Regions from separate parts of the Homo sapiens genome. Here region 1 is linked to region 2. Evidence: fine-mapped QTL for protein levels in blood plasma. A gene starts in region 2. The other region holds a variant in brackets. All regions are shown on one strand. Distances are from middle to middle.

Region 1 (8,000 bases), 34 kb before region 2:
TCACTTTTCAGGGGTCACCTCATCTTGGCCCCTTCTCCTTCCTGCCCTTGTGATTTTCTGAGATGTCATGGGCATGGATGGTCCATGTTATGCAAGTGGCTGATGCTATGTCCATTTGACAAGGGTTGTATCCCCAGTGCCTGCCAATGTTTCATTTCGGGTGCTGTGGCTCACAGAATGCTTCGGGGATGCAAGGAAATCAGTCAGATTTGTACACCTGCTAAATTCAACAGGCAGGAGCTGAGTGTTCAGGGAATGGCAAAGCACCTCCAAATCCCCAGCGTTACTGCTGCCCTTAGTGGTCATGCTAAGGGGACATAGATGAACCAGGCATCCAGGAGACTGGAGACTGACTTTGGCAAGGGAGGCAGGGAGGGAGATGTTCCCTACTGTGCAAGGGAAGGAGATGCTCAAAATACAGGAGGCCACTAGTTGTGCACACACAAACCTATATAAAAAAATGTTCCCACTCCACTAATGTATCCGATGGAACCAATTTACTGCACAGTTAAGAACAGTAATGGCCTCCATTTGCTGATCTCCTACTGCATGCAGCTATTACTGGGGCTAGGCACTACCCACATTCATTAATCCTCACAATCACCATCACTGTCCCCATTTTACAAAGGAGGAAACTGGCTCAGAGAGGCTAGGAAACTTGGCGAGATGACACACCCAGCCAGGGAAAGAAGATTCAAACCCAGGTCTCCTAGGCCACAATCCTGGCTGACTCCATGGTTGTCCAATCTGTAGCTCCTACCCTCCCTCCATGATCCCGAAGTAATTCCAGCATGGCTGGGCAAAAAAGGGTATTTTCCCAGTGGTCCAGGTCATGACCTGAACTGTGTCTTCTTTAATACTATTGATTTCTAGGAATACAACTCTCAGTAAGGACAAGAAAACAACAGGAAATCCTGGAAATATTACTAAAGGACATCGACTTCAGAGCCTCTCCTAGAAAACTTGGGAAACAAAAGAAAATCAAGATCATGGGTAGAAATGTTTATTTGTCTTCTAGTAAAGGAGATTTAATCTATTCCTCAGGAAATGAGAAGAAAGGGCCACAGAGAATTTGCACACTTACTTGAGACAAAAAGAACGATGCCTTTCATGCCTTCACTGACATTTCCTTGACTTGCCTCACAATAGATATTTGTCCCTTTATTCCTAATGAAAGGCACACTATTCAAGTTGAATGCAGTTACATGTGGATCAAGTTGTTCTCCATGAATCTGTTTCCCTTCCAAATAACAGGATACATTATTTTGAATGTTCCTAGAAACGTAACAAATGGTAACATTGGTGCCTTCTTCCACCAGCTTATCTTTAGGGAAAACGAACAATATATCCTGTCCAGTAGAATCTTGTACTGCAAGAAAAAAAAATAGCCAAGTTAGAATCGCACTCAAAATTCAAGCCTCTTAAAACAAGTTATCCATTTGCCTTCAGCAGATAACTTTAGCTTTTTCTACCTCCTGGAGAAAATAGCAACCTAAATTTCTCTGCCAAACCTCTACCCTCTGGTGCATGCAAGACAATCCTTTCCACCACTGCTCCTATTGTTACACTGATACCACTGCTGTTGCTCTTACTGCCACAGACAGCACATTACTATTACCACTCTGATAATTGCATGATTGCTATTGCTGGGTTATTGTAACTGCTTTCTATCAAGTCCCAGCCCTGCTGAAGGCCATGTTAAGTGTTTATGTACATTATCTCATGTCGTTCTTAGTACCTTACAACAACAGGTCAGGTAAGACTTAGCCAAAGTTTGCTCAGTTAGAAAGTGGCAAAGCCACATTCAGACTGGCAAGGTCTATGCATCTCCAAAATCCCTCGTAATCTCTTCATTGTACTGGAGATCATATCTCTCCCTACCTTCTCAGAAATGCGAGTCCCTCAAGTGTGAGGGGTCTTTAAAACATTCATTTTTAAAAGTTTTTAAAAAATCCAACCTTCAAGCAATTCTTGTGCCTCAGCCTCCTGAGTAGCTGGGACTACAGGCATGTGCCACCACACCCAGCTGATTTTTTGTATTTTTAGTAGAGCTGGGGCTTCGCCATGTTGTGCAGGCTGGTCTCAAACTCCTGAGCTCAGGCAATCCGCCCACCTCAGCCTCCCAAAGTACTAGAATTACAGATGTGAGCCACCACACCCAACCTCTTACTATCTTTTTAATATCTTTTCTTTCCCTGTGTATGTGTCCTTCTTTCCATAGTAGGATGTAATAGTTAAGCACATGACCTCTGGAGCCAGACTGTCTGGGTTGGAGTTCCAGCTCCAGCACTTAGTGGCGTGGTGACCTTGCATGGCTTCTTTAACCTCTCAGTGCCTCAGTTTCCTTATCTGTGAAGCGAGGATAAGAAGTCCTTTTATAGGACTGACATGAGAACTAAATATGTATAGTACTTTAAAAAGTGACTAGGTCATAGATTTAATTCAATTATTATTATCTCATTAGTATTATTAGTTTAACGTGCGCAAATAATCTCATTTTTCAAATAACACACCACTTTCATTTTTCCATATTCCACCCCCCTTCCCCCCACCCCGCCGTCTAGATTCGGGGGAGCTACAATTTGAGTCCACCATCTGTTGTTTTTTTGGTGTGTGTGTGAGAGACAGAATCTTGCCCTGTGGCCCAGGCTGGAGTACAGTGGTGTAATCTAGGCTCACTGCAACCTCTGCCTCCTGGGTTCAAGCGATTCTCCTGCCTCAGCCTCCAGAATAGCTGGGACTACAGGTGCCCGTCACCATGCCCAGCTAATTTTTATATTTTTAGTAGAGACAGGATTTCACCATGTTTCCCAGGCTGGTCTTGAACTCCTGACCTCAAGTGATCCACCCGCCTTGGCCTCCCAAAGTGCTGAGATTACAGGAGTGAGCCACCATGCCTGGCCCTGTTTCTGTAAATAAATTTCTATCAACAAAGCTGTCTCATTGGTTTACACACTATCTATGGCTGCTCTCACACTACAGTAGCAGAGTTGAATAGTCACAACAGCGACTGTATGCTCTGAAAAGCTTATACTATCTCTTATCTGGCCTTTCACAGAAAAATGTTCCCAACCTCTACTCTAGACGCATACACATTTTGTGTTGCTCAAATAAATACATATGTACAATTTATGTCTTGCTTTGTTCACTTAGCATTTATAATACACAAACTTTACATGTTTTGAAAACAAATACAAAATTGCCTGAATCTGCACAACTATCTCAATGAGTAAGTTCAGGAGCAAGACTTCAGACTATATCTTCCAGTGCCAAGTTTCACACCTGTGTTTTTTAGTTCCCATAGGAGCCAAAGGAAAATAATGTCAGTGTCTACCCAGGGTTCCTCAAAGGAGATTTCCACTATTTGACTATTGCTCCTCATTAAAAAATATATTAACCCTTTTCACTCTTGTAACCACCTCACTTCTTACCACTGACTTCCTCCCAGGAACTCCAGTTGCTCCAGAAATTTGGCTCAGGGAACTTGGCATCGTCCACCAAACTCTTTATTCTTACAAAGTGTGTGGCACATTCCAAAGGGAGCTCAGATTCCCAGCTCCAATGCAGAACCTGGTTCCACTTCACAGTGGTGCTGTAATTCCCCTAAAAGCAAAGAGAAAACAATTGGAGACACATAGCCATCTTGTCCTATAAAATAGCT[T/G]GACTTGACTTATCCCAAAGCACAAACCTAAGACCCCATTGCAGGTCCACGATATGTGCCAGTGAATTCCACTTCTGCTAGTCAATTCCCCATGTTCTGATGCCTCGCATGGGAGCCAGCTATGACCTCCTGCCTTTTGAAAACTCAGCTTCCAATCACTATGGTCTTCCAATTCCCGGGGACTCATGTGGAATAAGCGGGAGAGAAAACAGAAGCTACTCAGGTCTTGGGGGAACAGATCAGAGACAGAAGGTGCTCACTGTGCCAGTCCCAGAGAATCTGCTAAGAAAGTTCTTGAAAAGTAGAGAATTAACACAGTCATCCTTTAAAAAAAAAAAAAGATTGTTTGTTTTTAAAAAATATTCATCTTTAGCAAGGTTTGGATTAGGATGGTCAAATCTCAGTCAAGAAAGCAGTCTTTCATGGCACACCAGAAGTTCCATTTTCTCTCGGAAGTTGATAGATGGCTCTCTGAGTCTCCCCTGGTTTTCTGTCTCTTGTCCTTTCAGATACGGTGGCCACATGGCCACACTCCATCTCTTGGGCTCCATCTGTCAGACTCTTAGGCCCTGAAGCTGTCAGTGACACAAAATGTCTTACACTGTTTTCTAGGAAGCTTGTCTAAGTTGAGCTGTAATTTGGGCTTTTGACACAGCCTTTAGCCTTCATCTTTCTGAGATGCTGGCATTTCCATTCTCTAATTCCACAGGCTTCAAAGGCCCGTTTACACCTTGCCCTGTCATGCAAGGCCTTCTATAATCTGGCTCCAACCCACCAGTCCCTTGCAGGAATCGTCTCTCCAAACATAGCACCTCCCCCACACTTCTGGATATGCCTTATGCTTTCAGACCTGTCTTTGCTCAGGCAATGTCTTTGGTTTGGTGTCTTCCACTCCCTGCTGTATGGGGATCTGTCCTGTTCTTCAAGCCTAGGTTATGTCCCTTCTCTTTCATGAAGGCTTTCTTGCTCTTTCCTCTGCATTCCTCTTGTCTCCACCCCTTCTGAGCCCCTCCTATATACTGCGGCTAGCTGTTGGTATATCAGCTGTGACTCTAGCATGGTCCCGAGGGAGCAGGAACCACGTTCTCTTCTTCATGTCCCCCAAAGCTCCAGGCATGCTTTCTCCTCAGTGTGCCTCCTCCAACGCTCCTGTTTCCTGCCCCACAGCTGCAAGGTGGAGACAACACACACATGACACTTACTGGGGGAACCTGAGTTCGAGTCTGCATCCATGTTTCTAAGGGCGAATAATAAGTCCTCAGTGAAGGGGATGGGACAAGTCACATGTCACACACTGCTTGGCGTTAGCAACTCGGATGCCTTCTACTAATTATGTCTGCCCCCTATTCAGGTCACAAACTTGAAACAGTGCCCCTGACAGAATTAAACCCAGCCCTGGGCTGAAAACATCCTGGTCCACCCAGGGGGCATTTAATTGTGGGCTTCCTTTCTCACTCTCTGCAGACTGTGTTTTTTTAAATGTTTATATTTTATTTCCATTTCTTGCATTACTTTACTCCTAGATCACAAAATATGTTCCTTAACAAGTTGTGAGGTCCTGATCCATGAAACCCTCACTATTTAACATGAGCAATGTCAAGTACATTTTGCTTAAATATTTTTAAAATTTAAGAGCAAATATCCCAGGACTTTGGGAGGCCAAGGCAGGCAGATCATGAGGTCAGGAGTTTGAGACCGGTCTGACCAACATGGTGAAACCCCATTTCTACTAAAAATACAAAAATTAGCCGGATGTGGTAGTGCGTGCCTGTAATCCCAGCAACTCAAGATGCTGAGGCAGAAGAATCGCTAGAACCCGGAAGACGGAGGTTGCAGTGAGCTGGGATTGCGCCACTGCACTCCACCCTGGGCAACAGAGTGAGACTCCATCTCAAAAAAAAAAAAAAAAAAAGGAGCAAATATTTCCTCTCTTCCCCCAGACCCCTGCTAGAAGGAAGTACATCAATAATGGCAACTTCGCTCTAATGCCAACAAGTCACAGACTGAACTTTACCTCCCTTCTGTCCCTTAAATGCAGCCACTTCTCTTACCCGCATCTCCGCTTTGGCTGAACCCTACAGCTCGCTTCCTAGCGGCCACACATCCCTTGCCCCAGTTCCCCACCACATTCCGCTGTGCGGCTATTCAAATCAGAGCTTGCCACTTCCTTTGTTCTTATTGCCCTTGGGATAAAAAAACAAAACCTGAGCATGCACTCCATGGTCCTGTGCATCTAGGCCTGTGCCCCTGTCCTCATGTGCTTGGGGATCCAGCACCACAGCGGGCTTTCAGGCCTGGAAATTCCCTTCTCTCAGCGCCTCTGCTCATGCCTGTTGGGCCTGCTCAGAGCACTCTTTTCTACTCTACTTGCTAAAGTAACTTCTATCCTCTTGGATATTTGGTCTCAAACAGCCCTTTATCCAAATTGTGGGAGAAGGTGAGGCCTAACCCGAACCTCATAGCATCTCATCAGTGACCTGCACACACAGCCCGTGTGTAGAATACCCTATGCGTGTGTTCACCTCCTCATTCTTTCCAGTGTGCTCAGCGCTGACATTCCCACACTGCGCACAATGCCTGATCTGGGAGCACAGGCTAAAACTCTGGACTGAATGATTTAATCATTTCATTAATATGCAATGAGTTGTATTTCCCCCAGACACTATTTATGTGTGGAACCTGTTTAACCTCAACTTCTGCTTTGTGGTCTTTACAGCCCTGTTAATGTAGGAGATAAAACTTTTCCTTAAGTACTGCAATTCATTGATTTTTTTTCTTTAAATATGATGAATTGTCTTTGGGTCATTTCATTTATTGAAGTGGCAGGTTTAATTTGATCCTTGCAGACATCAGTAAGTCACAAGAAATTGGCACACACATTTACACAGAAGTCTAATAGAGGTCACTGATTTGTTACTGAGACATTTGACTCCCACACCTGGCCTCCTTCCAAGCTTGAGCTCTTACTCTACTTTGCCTTCCTATGCCATTGACAAAATCAAAAAGCAAAGGGAAGGGGAGGACCATGACCCAGGAGGGCAGGACCATGCAGTTCAGGGTTCCAAATGGCCAGTACCATCCAGGAGACAGGTCGGTGCCTCTGGTCCAGCTGCAAGTGCTCTTCCTTTGACTTGTTTGGGAACAGAGGTGTCCGAGACATTGAGTCCAGAAGCTTCCCCCCAGCCCCCAGCATGAATGAGAGTGCCCTGTCAGGCTTGCACTACAGGGAGCTTCCCTGTATAAGGGAGATTTTGGTCTAAACAGAAGCAGCATCCTCCTCCTTAACTGGAGGAGGATAGTTCTCGTCAACTTCAGGCATGAGTGATTCAGACAAGCATTTCTCAAGGCATCATCTATTCCATAGGACATGTGTCCACCGATGGCCTGGGGGCTGCATGTGACTGTCATCCCTTTCTGGGCACAGGAGTGAAGGATGATCCCACCCTGCCTCTGTCACCTGGAGCAACACAACAAACCTCTCTGTGCTGTGGTTTCTCCACTGTTGTAGTCAGGCTGGGTTGGGTGTTGTGAGGACAACACGATAGACAAGGCAAAACTCTACCCTGAAGGGTCTTGAGCCCTAGAAGATTACAGAAATAGTCCACACTAGCTGCTTTCCCTTGAAAAGAGGACTCTTACGGGAATCAAATATGAAAACAGATATGAACAACTGCTTTTTAGGAAAATAAATAAAAAAATCCACTTGGTGTATGGCTAATATTATTTTTTGTAACATAATAATAGATATGAGTTGTCTTTTGGAAAAATAAAGAATAGGATCCATGTAGTCTATGGTTAATGTTATTTTTGCTAACGGTGCTAAGTGCTAGTTTTCCACAATTCCTCCAGCACTTCCACCTCAATTTTTCTTTTTGTAGATAATCCTTAGTCTCAATATGACCTTTGCTTCAATGTTTTACCGGGCCCAAATTACCAACAAGTGTACCCATTAAAAATACAAAAATCAGACTTGCTAGTATAAGGTGAGATAGTGGAAAGATGTGTTGATAGCAGGGAGTAAACAGCTACACAGAAGTATTGCTGTTGTTGAAAATCATCATACTAAATAAGTCTCATTGTGGGAAACTGCCCTTTGAGAGGTAGAATTATAGACTAGGTATGAATCCTAAGTGGACAGAGTCAAAATTTTATTTAACTTGCGCAGATCTCAAATTTCAATAATGAATATGGAAAGTAACTGAAGATGTTAAAATTAGTGACTTGTATGCCTTACCAAAGGAACTAACCATGCTGTATGTGTGTACCCAAAGCCTCCACTACCTGGGTGAAGACAGGAGCCTGGTTGAGCTGACAGAGGGCCCAAGCACAGTCCTAGGCT
Region 2 (10,019 bases):
GAAACTGCCCCCATGATTCCGTTATCTCGTACTGGGTTCCTCCCACAACATGAGGGAATTATGGGAGCTACAGTTCAAGATGAGATTTGGGTGGGGACACAGCCAAACCACATCAGTGAATAAGTCAGTTTCAAAACAGTATATACCTAAGAACATCTCTGAAAGAGAACTGTGGCAGTGTGCAGCTGTGCCCCTCAGTGCTCCCTTCAAGAGAGCGTAGATGACTGACAGCCTTCAGACACTGCCCCTTCAGATCTGTGGAAGATTCACACACCCCAGGCTGCTCCCACCCAATGGCTGCAGCTGGAAGCAACTCCTTCCCACCTTCCTTCCTCCCCATCTCCTTCCACAGGCATCACACCTGCACTGGGTCTGAAGGCTCTGTGCCTACAGTTACTCCCTTTCCCCTTACAAGTCCTTCCCCCAGTAAATCTCTTGCACATGTGTTTCTGGCTTGCTCTCTTCTACTTGAGGGATCCAAACCAGCCCCAAAGACACACCCACTTACTAAGTTATAAATTTAGAGCTGAGATGGAGGGAGGGAGGTGGGCAGAATAAGAGAAATTATAGATAACTCACTTTAAGTTATACAGTTCTGCAACATAAAGCATTCCTTAAAACGTGTGTGTGTGCATGTTTTAAACATATTAAGCTCAGTCTTGTGCAAGTGGCAATTTCCTTATTTCCACACTTGAAACCATATATCCCAACATGATTAAACTAGTTGACAGTGTTTGTGTTTCCAGTCCAACCCATGGTATTGAACAGACTTGAAAAAGGTTGGCAGTTTTTACCTACTGGATCAGCCTGGGAGGATGCCGTGTTTTTCTGTACAGAAAATGTAACCTCTTAGGTTCTGAGAGAGTGTAGATACTTTAATGATCTATTTCCAAATGCAAAAAGTAACCAGTGTCCTGAGTAGAAAAATCATACTACCATCCCCGGCTGACAGACAGACACACTGAAGTATATATATGAAGTAAATTTGCTCAAAATCCCCCATTAGGGAGATTGAAAGTAGAAAGAGGTGACCAAGAAATACCACGGTGTATGAAAAATTTACTCACAAGAAAGCGTAACTTCTGTTGATGCACATCTTCTCAAAAGCTGGCATTACACATGAACAATGAAACCTCAATCACTCTTTTCTGAGAATTATTTTGTCTTACATTTTTCCAAGTGTTCTTTATGTCTTACATTTTTCTATTTGCAGAAGCCACTTACAATTGTGCTTTTCTTTAGTTGACATTAAATGTCATATTCAGGCTGCATATATTTTATATGACTGTCTTCATCTTAAGTCAACAGTTTAAAATAATCCAGATAGTTAATTGCCTCAATGACTCTAGATCTAAGAACAGAGCTAGGTATTCTATTTAGCGATCTCACCAACCCTCTTTCTTTTAACAAAAATAAAGGAAGAGAGGGAGAGAAGAAGGAAGAAAGGAAAACAACTATAATTTAGTTCTTTAGCATGTAATTTTAAAAGAAATCAATTTAAAAATGCTTTCAATCATATTCATTACAAATAGGAAGTACTATCACTAGCAGCATAAATTTAAATAGTTGTACAAGACTGTACACCCAAATGTGGACAAAGGACCAGCAGTATTGACATCACCTGGTAGCTTGTCAGAAATGCAAAATCTCAGGCCAGACCTTAGACCTCTTGAATCTGCATTTAAATAATATCCTCAGGTGATTCATATGCACATTCAAGTTTGAGAAACACTACTATATTTAAAATATATGATATATTTTTGTCTCTTAGGATACTACCAATAAATAAAGGAAATATTTACTGGTTCCTATTACCAATAGGGCACTCTGCAAAACCATGAGTAGGATATAAATATGAAAAAGATCCCAGCTAGCATGTATAAGATACTAACTCTCTACAAGGTGCTTTGCTAAGTGACGTACATGCATTTATTAATTGAATCCTCACAACAGCGCTAAGAAAAGGATTATATTATTATTCCCATTCACAGAGGAGGAAATTAAGGATAAGAAAGTTGACAAGTAATTTATCCAAACTGACCCAGTTAATCTGATGTGTAGCCAATATTTGAAATCAGATAAGTCATTAACCAAAGTTCACATGACACAGTTTCCTTAAAGCTTGGAGCTCATACCAAAGTGGACATTAAAGCATTAAAAATTGCTAACAATTATAAACTCAATAAAATCTTAATTAAAAATAGGATTTTATTAAACTTGACAGGCTATTTGTAAAGAGAAAATGTATGTGATTTATAAAAAAAGTTGTTTTAAAAAGCACAAATATATACCACAAGATTTTCAAAAACACTATAAAGCTACAGTAGTTAACTCAGAGTAATATTGGTTTAGGGAAAAACAAACAAAAAAAAAGATCAATGAAACAGAATAGAATCCTGACACAGACCCTTTTACAAACAGGAATTTATTTAATGATAAAAACAGAATTTCAAATGAGTTGGAAAAAAGATGAATTATTAAATAAATGCTATTGGATCAGCTGTCTAAAACTTTACAAAAATATTAAGTTACATCGTTACCTTCCACTTCGTATCTATCAAGTGGAAAAAGGGGCAAACCCTTTGACACAGGAATACCTCTCCTCAGATTCTCTTCCACAGAAATACTCACACTTGAGCAGGAAGATGAATGTGTGATCTGCTCTGAAGCAACGTTGCTAATGCTGAATGTCCATCAATATAGGAAAGGATGGATAAATTACATTCTATTTCTACTTTAGGATAACATGTAGCTGGCCGGGCGCAGTGGCTCACGCCTGTAATCCTAGCACTGTGGGAGGCCAAGGCAGGTGGACTGCTTGAACCCAGGAGTTCAAGACCAGTCTGGGCATCATGGAGAGACCCAATCTTTACAAAAAATACAAAAAAAAAAAAGTCAGGTGTGGTGTCATGTGCCTGTAGTTCCAGCTTCTCAGGAGGCTGAGGTGGGAGGATCACTTGAGCCCAGAAGGTCGAGGCTGCAGTGAGCCATGATCATGACACTGCACTTCTGCCTGTGTGACAGAGTGAGACCATCTCACACACACACAAAAAGAATAACACGTAGCCATTAACAAAAGAGGTATCTAGAGACAATGGAAAGATCTCTAAGACTTGGAAAGTGAAAAAGCAAGCTGTACAATAAGTATAGTAAGATAATTTGCATATTTAAAACATATGTATATGTATGTATTATGTAAAACTATAGAAAAGAAAAACAAGCCTTAGAATGGTATTATCAAACTTAACCTTCCCTCTTCTGAGTGGGAGGAGGGAGGATGGTGATGGCACGTCTACATTTCACTTCACTTCTATATTGAGTGAGAATGAGTTGTTATTATTTGTATTATTTTTAAAACACAAAAATAGAATACAACGTGGAGTGCACAAATGCAGAGCGACCAGTACAACTAAAATGAGGAGGGAAGGAAGGCTATGAAGCCACCAACACAGCTGTTGGAAAAGAAATTCTCTCTTCATGTAGCTACAAAGAAGCCTGCTTGGAGGAGGGGATTTCTCCAGCAAGGCCATGATATTCTATTTGTTTTGGTTTGGGTTTTTTTCCCCCCATTTTACACATTTTTTAAGCAATCAAGAAGGATTTTCTCCCCCAGCGAAAGGAGGGCCAAGGCTCACAGTTCCTGTAAGTGAGCAAGACCACACTCACTAAGATTCTCTTCTACTGCAGCCAATGAATGCCCCAGTCCTTTCCCACAAGGAAAATACACACCTTCTTCTTGTTAAATACAGTACCACTGATTCCCCTTTGAAAACCGTAACAGTTCTCCTGATTCGGTTTTGTCCTCAGGACAAAAGGGTTACAAAAACATGAGAGATCCAGGAACACCTCTGCATGTGTTCCTGGTCTGTTCAGGTTAAAGAAAAGGGTAGAGGGGGAAAGAACCAGTGTTTATGTGTTCTCCCCAATGCGGCTCGGGTCCCTGCGGAAGAAACACCCAAGACCAGCCTTTTTCTCTCAAAGCCACCTTTGATACAAAAGGCTTAGCCACACCTGCTGGGACAAACGGGAACTGGGACCAAGATGTAAGTCACAAGGAGGCAATTTACAGCAGAGAACTAGCTCTTCCTACAATAAAATGTGAGGTGGTGAGCTTCCTGCCACTGGAGGCACTGAACAAATGCTACGGGGAAAACAAACTGAGTATTTCCTGAAGATTCTGAATAGAAGGCTGTGTTTGGAGTTTGATGCTTTGAAAGCTCAAGAAATGATTCTCAGACACAGCGGAGTTTGGGGACATCAAGGGCTCTGAGTGCATTTTAAAGCAGCCCAGGAGAGAGACAAAGCAAGACCATAATGAAACACCCCACCCAGTCTTAGAGTTTGAGCTACAGCACGGTGATCATGAGCAGACTCCAAACCCAAATCCTGATACTGTCACCTGCTAGCTGTGTAACCCTAGAAAAGTTACAAAACCTCTTTGGGCCTCAGTTTCCTCAATAAAATATAATAAAAAACTAGTACCCGCCTCACCCGTGAAGCTTAAATGAGCTAGCATATGTCAAGTGCTTAGAATAGGGGCTGGTTCACAGTAAGTATGAACCATTATTATTTGCAGACAAGGAAACTAAGAGGTGATAAGTAGTTTGACCCATGTTCCAAAGTCAGTTTTAATCTTGGGAATAAAACCTAAAAATTTCTTTCTCCTCCATCAGAATTCCTTCTAGCTCAAACTAAGTATCCTACATTCAATTCTATCTTCTCTGCCTTCATAGACCCTTCCATTTACTTCTCTTGAATATCTTGTTCCCAAAGTGTTTTCAAGGCAGGTCTGTTACCAAGCCACTCCATCAGCAGCACCTAGCACTGTGCCTCCCGCAGCAAGGCAGGCAGGATGGATGGACGGATGCAGGCATGCATGGGTAGGTGGATGAAGGGCAGATGAAGAACTATCGAGAAAGGAATCGCGGTGTCAGGGGTAAAGCCCTGGCCTGCGAGAGCCGGGCTCGGATTTCAGTGCCCTCACAGCTAGCCATATGGCCTTGGACAAGTTACTGAACCCCTCCGTGCCTAGGTTTCCAGAATGTAGAGGGCCACTTCCACTCAAGTGGCTGGAGAAGAAGGTAAGCGCCCCGGACGGACGCTATTGCAGAGTCGCCCGGGGATTCCTCTCTCCACCTGTGCTTGAGCTCCTCCCGCTTCTACGCTAGGGACCAGGTGGGAGAGATACACGGATTCCCAGAAAAATGGCTCTCTCAGGTGGGAGTCAAGGGTTACGAGAGGAGAGGTAGGGGAAGCAATGAACTCCTCCACACGATGTGTTGGGAGAGAGGAAAGAGGGATTCAAGTGGGAATTTTCCACTCAACAAACATTCCACCATCATTTGAGAAAAAGGCGCTGGGATGGTGAATTTCAAACAGTCTGAGAAATGGGCGACTCGGCACTGTGCGGCCTGTAAGGAATGAATCATTTAGTTTTCACCCACCAGGTAGGCAGGCCGGGGGCGAGGACCCTCCGAGCGCCGTCCGAGCGCAGGTGGTAGCCCAGCCAAGCAAACGCTGGGCAGAGGCGGCACCGAGGAGGGGAACGGGCTGCTGCACTCCCGGTCGCGTCCAGCCGGGATGGGCTGCGAAGTTGTCGGATTCTTTCCCGCACAGCACGGGGCTCGCCCGTCGGAAAAGCCACCGAGGGCGGCGCAGCGGCAGGGCGCGAGCAGAGCGGGGACGGGCGGGTCGGGGGTACTCACGCCGCGGGCGAAGGGCTCCACGAGCCGGGCCGAGTCCTCGGCGGCGCGTGGGGCGCGGGTGCGGGCTCCGGGGCGGACGTGCAGAGGCGGCCCGGGCCGGGGCTATGAATCAGCTGCGGGGCAAGCGCGGAGGGGCGGGAGTTACTGGAAAACCGCGGGGGAGGGCAGAGGGGTGAGGTCTTTTGCAATTTCCCGTCTTGCTGCGCACTCTTGGCACTCCTGGGACCCACAGGAATTCCCTCCCTTCAGTCCCGGGGGGAGGCGGCCGCGATCCTGGGGGAGGCGCAGCCTCACAACCCGGACTTTGCGGGCGGGCGGGCACTGGTGAGAAGAGGAAGTGGGAGAGGCCTGGGAAGGAAACTTGGAAACCGAAAACTCGGCGGCCGAGGCTCCGTGCCCCGCGCGCAGCGCTGCTCCTGCCCCGGCCAAGGACGCACGGGCCAGCCGGCGGAACCAGAGGTAAGCCGAGTGACCGATGAGGCCTGGGGCTGTGTATCCCACAGGGGCACTTGTCATCCCAACCCAGAGGCCAAACCCGTGAGATCCCCGTCCGAAAATCTTCAGGCAAGAGAAGTCCTTTAACTAAATTTTGGCCGTGTTTCCATTTGGCGTCCAGAGCAACGAAAACGTGTTTGAACCGAATCAAACGGTCCCCATTTTTCCCCTACTCGCGTTCTATCCAGAAACGCCCTGTCCGACAAAGTTTCTTCGGCTACAACAGTCCCGAAACCTTTATTTCCCAATGCTACGACATGCTACACATGGTTTACTTTTCCCCTTAAAAATGCCATCCAATCTTCAACCTTTTTTTTTTTTTTTTTTTGAGACGGCATCTCACTGTGTCACCCAGGCTGGAGTGCAGTGGCGCGATCTCGGCTCACTGTAAGCTCCGCCTCCCGGGTTCACACCATTCTCCTGCCTCAGCCTCCCTAGTAGCTGGGACTACAGACGACCGCCACCACGCCTGGCTAATTTTTCTATGTTTAGTAGAGACGGGGTTTCACCGTGTTAGCCAGGATGGTCTCGATCTCCTGACCTCGTGATCCGCCCGCCTCAGCCTCCCAAAGTGCTGGGATTACAGGCGTCAGCCACTGCGCCCGGCCAAAAATGCCATCCAATCTTTACCGTGTCTGGGCCTTTGAAAGGTGCATTTCACCTCTCTTAGAGGATAACAGGAGCCTTCCGAGGCAGCCTCGGACCGGGAGCTCCCATAGCCTCGCCTGTCTGGATGCCTGACAAATCAGCAGGCAAGGGGCCTTGCTCCAGATCAGCTGAGCCTAGTTTGGTTTGAGTTTGGGGACCCTGGAAAGTATCACAAAAGCAAGGTTGTAGGAGGGGGGTGGGGGAGGGAACCAAGAGTGATCAACAAGTATCGACCATAAACATATCTTAGAATCCTATATTGAATTGACTGGATGACTCAAAATAATGTCAGAATTATTTTAAAATGTTACTTTTGTGTTTGTTCACATATCTGGCTCCTCCCCAATGTCATCCCAAGGAAAGCTGAGAGTCCTTTTGTTTTTTTATTTTTCCTAAAACAAAGGCCTAAAGGCCCTAATACACTTAATACCTAATGGGGCCACAAAGACCATGATGCATAGTAAATATTTGATGATAATAAAATGTATTTTTGTCTCAATAAATGTATGGTCCTTTGCCACACCTCTCATTACTTGAAGAGTTTTAAAGAGTCCATTAGTTTAGCCATCTGCATGGTTATGGAAACTGCCAAGCCCAAGAGTTGGAAAGTCTTTATGATTTTATATTTTACTGAGAAAAAAAATTATTCTTTATAGAAACAGTTAAAAGGGATCTCTCTTCTAGCAAATGAGATGTCAAATAAAAATATTCAGCCCAGTATGAATTTCTAAAAAGTGAGGCTTATTTTGGGCTCCTATTGCAATTGAAGGAGACTGAAGTGTAAAAATTTGGTGCCCACATATAATTTATCTGTTTTTGCACCATTCTAATTTCTTAAATTTATACGTTATTCTAGAATCTAGATGCAGTAGCACCATATAAATTCGCGATTATACCCTTAACAGTGGGTGCACTGGGTCCATAAAGTCAGATCCACCCAAAACCTCCAAATATCAGTTTATTTGGAAATAATGTTTTTGCAGCTTTAATCAAGTTAACCTGAGGTCATATAAGATTAATCCAGTGTCTGCTGTACTTCTGAAAAGGGGGGAATTTGGACACAGACACCCAGAAAGAACACTGTGTGACCACTGAGACAGATCCTGCTTATGCTGACTCAAGCCAAGGAATGGCAAGGTTGCTGACCACCACCAGAAGCTAGGAGAGAGGAACGGAACAGGCTCCCTTTGAACCCCTAAGAAGAAGCTAGCCCTGCCAACATCTTCATTTCAGACTTCTGGCCTCCAGATTGAGAATACATTTCTGTTGTTTTAAGCCACCAAGTTTGTGGTAATGTGTTATGGCAGCCTTAGGAAACTGATACATAGGTTATGTTCCATAAGTTAGTTTTAAACAATTATCCTGAAAATAACTAATAGGAAAAAGATGAAAAATACCAATGGCTTATTAAGCTAAGAGCTAAAATATCCATCCTTGCTTAGTTTTGATAAGATTGTGTGGCCAAGGCACATATTATTCTGCTTCGTTAAACACTCTTTTTATTTTTTTATTTGTGTGTGTGTTTTTATTTTTAATTTATTTATTTATTTATTTATTTAGAGACGGAGTCTTGCTCTGTCACACAGGCTGGAGTGCAGTGGCACGATCTCAGCTCACTGCATGCTCCGCCTCCTGGGTTCACACCATTCTGCCTCAGCCTCCCGAGGAGCTGGAACTACAGGCGCCGGCTACCACGCCCAGCTAATTTTTTTGTATTTTTAGTAGAGACTGGGTTTCACCGTGTTAGCCAGGGTGGCCTCAATCTCCTGACCTCGTGATCCTCCTGCCTTGGCCTCCCAAAGTGCTGGGATTACAGGCGTGAGCCACCGCGCCCGGCCCATTAAACACTCTTTCTTGACGTTCTCTCTTCCTTTTGATTTCAGTAGCAATACTCTCTCCATTCTTCTTTCATTTCCCTGACTTCCTCCTCCCTCATATTTTTGGACTTCTTGTTCTCCACTTGCCCCCTACATGTTGGTGTTTCCCAGGGCCCCAGGGCCCCCTGAATAATCATATTCACATCCAGGATTTCAATGATCACTTGTGCCTTGATGGCTCTCAGCTCTTCCTTTCCATTGCAATGATTTCATCTGCACTCCAGACAGTACTTTGAAATTAGTATGCCCGAATTCAAACTTCAGTTATGCTCACTTGATTTTATTATACTAAGTGAATGGTCCAGCCTTTAACCTTTACTAAGTTAATGGGCCAGCCTTCATTTAGTGTCCTCTGGACACTGAAGTTAAAACCCTGGGAATGATTCTCGATCCATCCTCTTTCATCTTCCATCTTCCATCAGAAAGTCTCATATGTATAACTATTATGGAGGAGGGATTAGTGGAATGTATTGCCAACCTATCTAACTTCTCAGAGGAAAAATAGTTCTATAACTGTCAGGAACATTATATTTGTCTATATCTCTATATCTATGTTTACATACATCTATGAAATCAGCTATGTAAATTGTGAAATATAATTATGATTCTATTTATTCCACTACTGTAAATAGCTATAATTACAAGATGGCAGCATTTTGTTACCAACTGATGGAATTTGAAGGTATCGGGGATTTTGTGAAGAAAGTGACTTCATCACCTAAGCAGTGGATAATGGTTTACAATTACCCTCATCGACAAGTTCTGTAGAATTCTGTTTTGTTGGCATATTATCACATTTGACTCTTTTTAAATGAGACAGGGTCTGTGTCACCCAGGCTGGAATGCAGTGGTGCAGTCTCGGCTCGCTGCAACCTCCGCCTCCTGGGCTCAAGCAATCCTCCCACCTCAGTCCTCCAAGCAGCTGGGACTACAGGCACGCGCCACCATGCTTGGCTAATTTTTGTATGTTTTATAGAGACAGGGTTTTGCCATGTTCTCCAGGCTGGTCTCGAACTCCTAGGCTCAAGTGATTTACCCACCTCAGACTCCCAGATTTCTGGGATTATAGATGTGAGCCACAGTGCCCAGCTGACATTGACATCTTAAAGATTCACTTTTAGGCCTTAACGCGTGCCTCTGTGATTATTATTGGTGGTGATATTGGCCTTATTTCTAAAAAAAAGTTATTGGAAATTAAAATTATTTTGTGGAAATAATTATTTTGTGGAAAGCTAAACAGGTCTTCCAAAAAAAAATTTAATCTGAAATTTATCATAAAGCTTGATTAATTAAA

Which allele goes with the higher level. Positions count from the first base shown, and alleles are read on the strand shown. Strength reflects both the effect of a copy and how common the allele is.
In carriers of allele G in region 1, the plasma level of the protein whose gene starts at base 5,820 in region 2 tends to be higher than with T alone (moderate association).

Evidence for each region. PIP is the chance, under the fine-mapping model, that this variant and not a neighbour inherited with it causes the effect. The UK Biobank Pharma Proteomics Project read protein levels with antibody pairs (Olink). The fine-mapping took linkage between variants from a reference panel, not from the people measured, so its PIPs are less certain.
Region 1: its variant is fine-mapped to the plasma level of the OSMR protein (UK Biobank, PIP above 0.99).

Annotation. Positions count from the first base shown.
Region 1 is chr5:38,877,196-38,885,195 of GRCh38, reverse strand. It overlaps OSMR (oncostatin M receptor), which reads right to left. Exons shown (of 18, transcript NM_003999.3): 4 at 3,432-3,603; 5 at 1,085-1,369. Among named protein-coding and RNA genes, the nearest start is that of OSMR, 35 kb to the right of the region's middle. RefSeq lists enhancers at 5,460-5,959, 5,960-6,461. The variant T/G (reference allele first, on the strand shown) is at 3,662.
Region 2 is chr5:38,841,813-38,851,831 of GRCh38, reverse strand. It overlaps OSMR (oncostatin M receptor), which reads right to left and starts at 5,820. Exons shown (of 18, transcript NM_003999.3): 1 at 5,445-5,820. It overlaps OSMR-DT (OSMR divergent transcript), which reads left to right and starts at 6,003. Exons shown (of 4, transcript NR_109951.1): 1 at 6,003-6,164.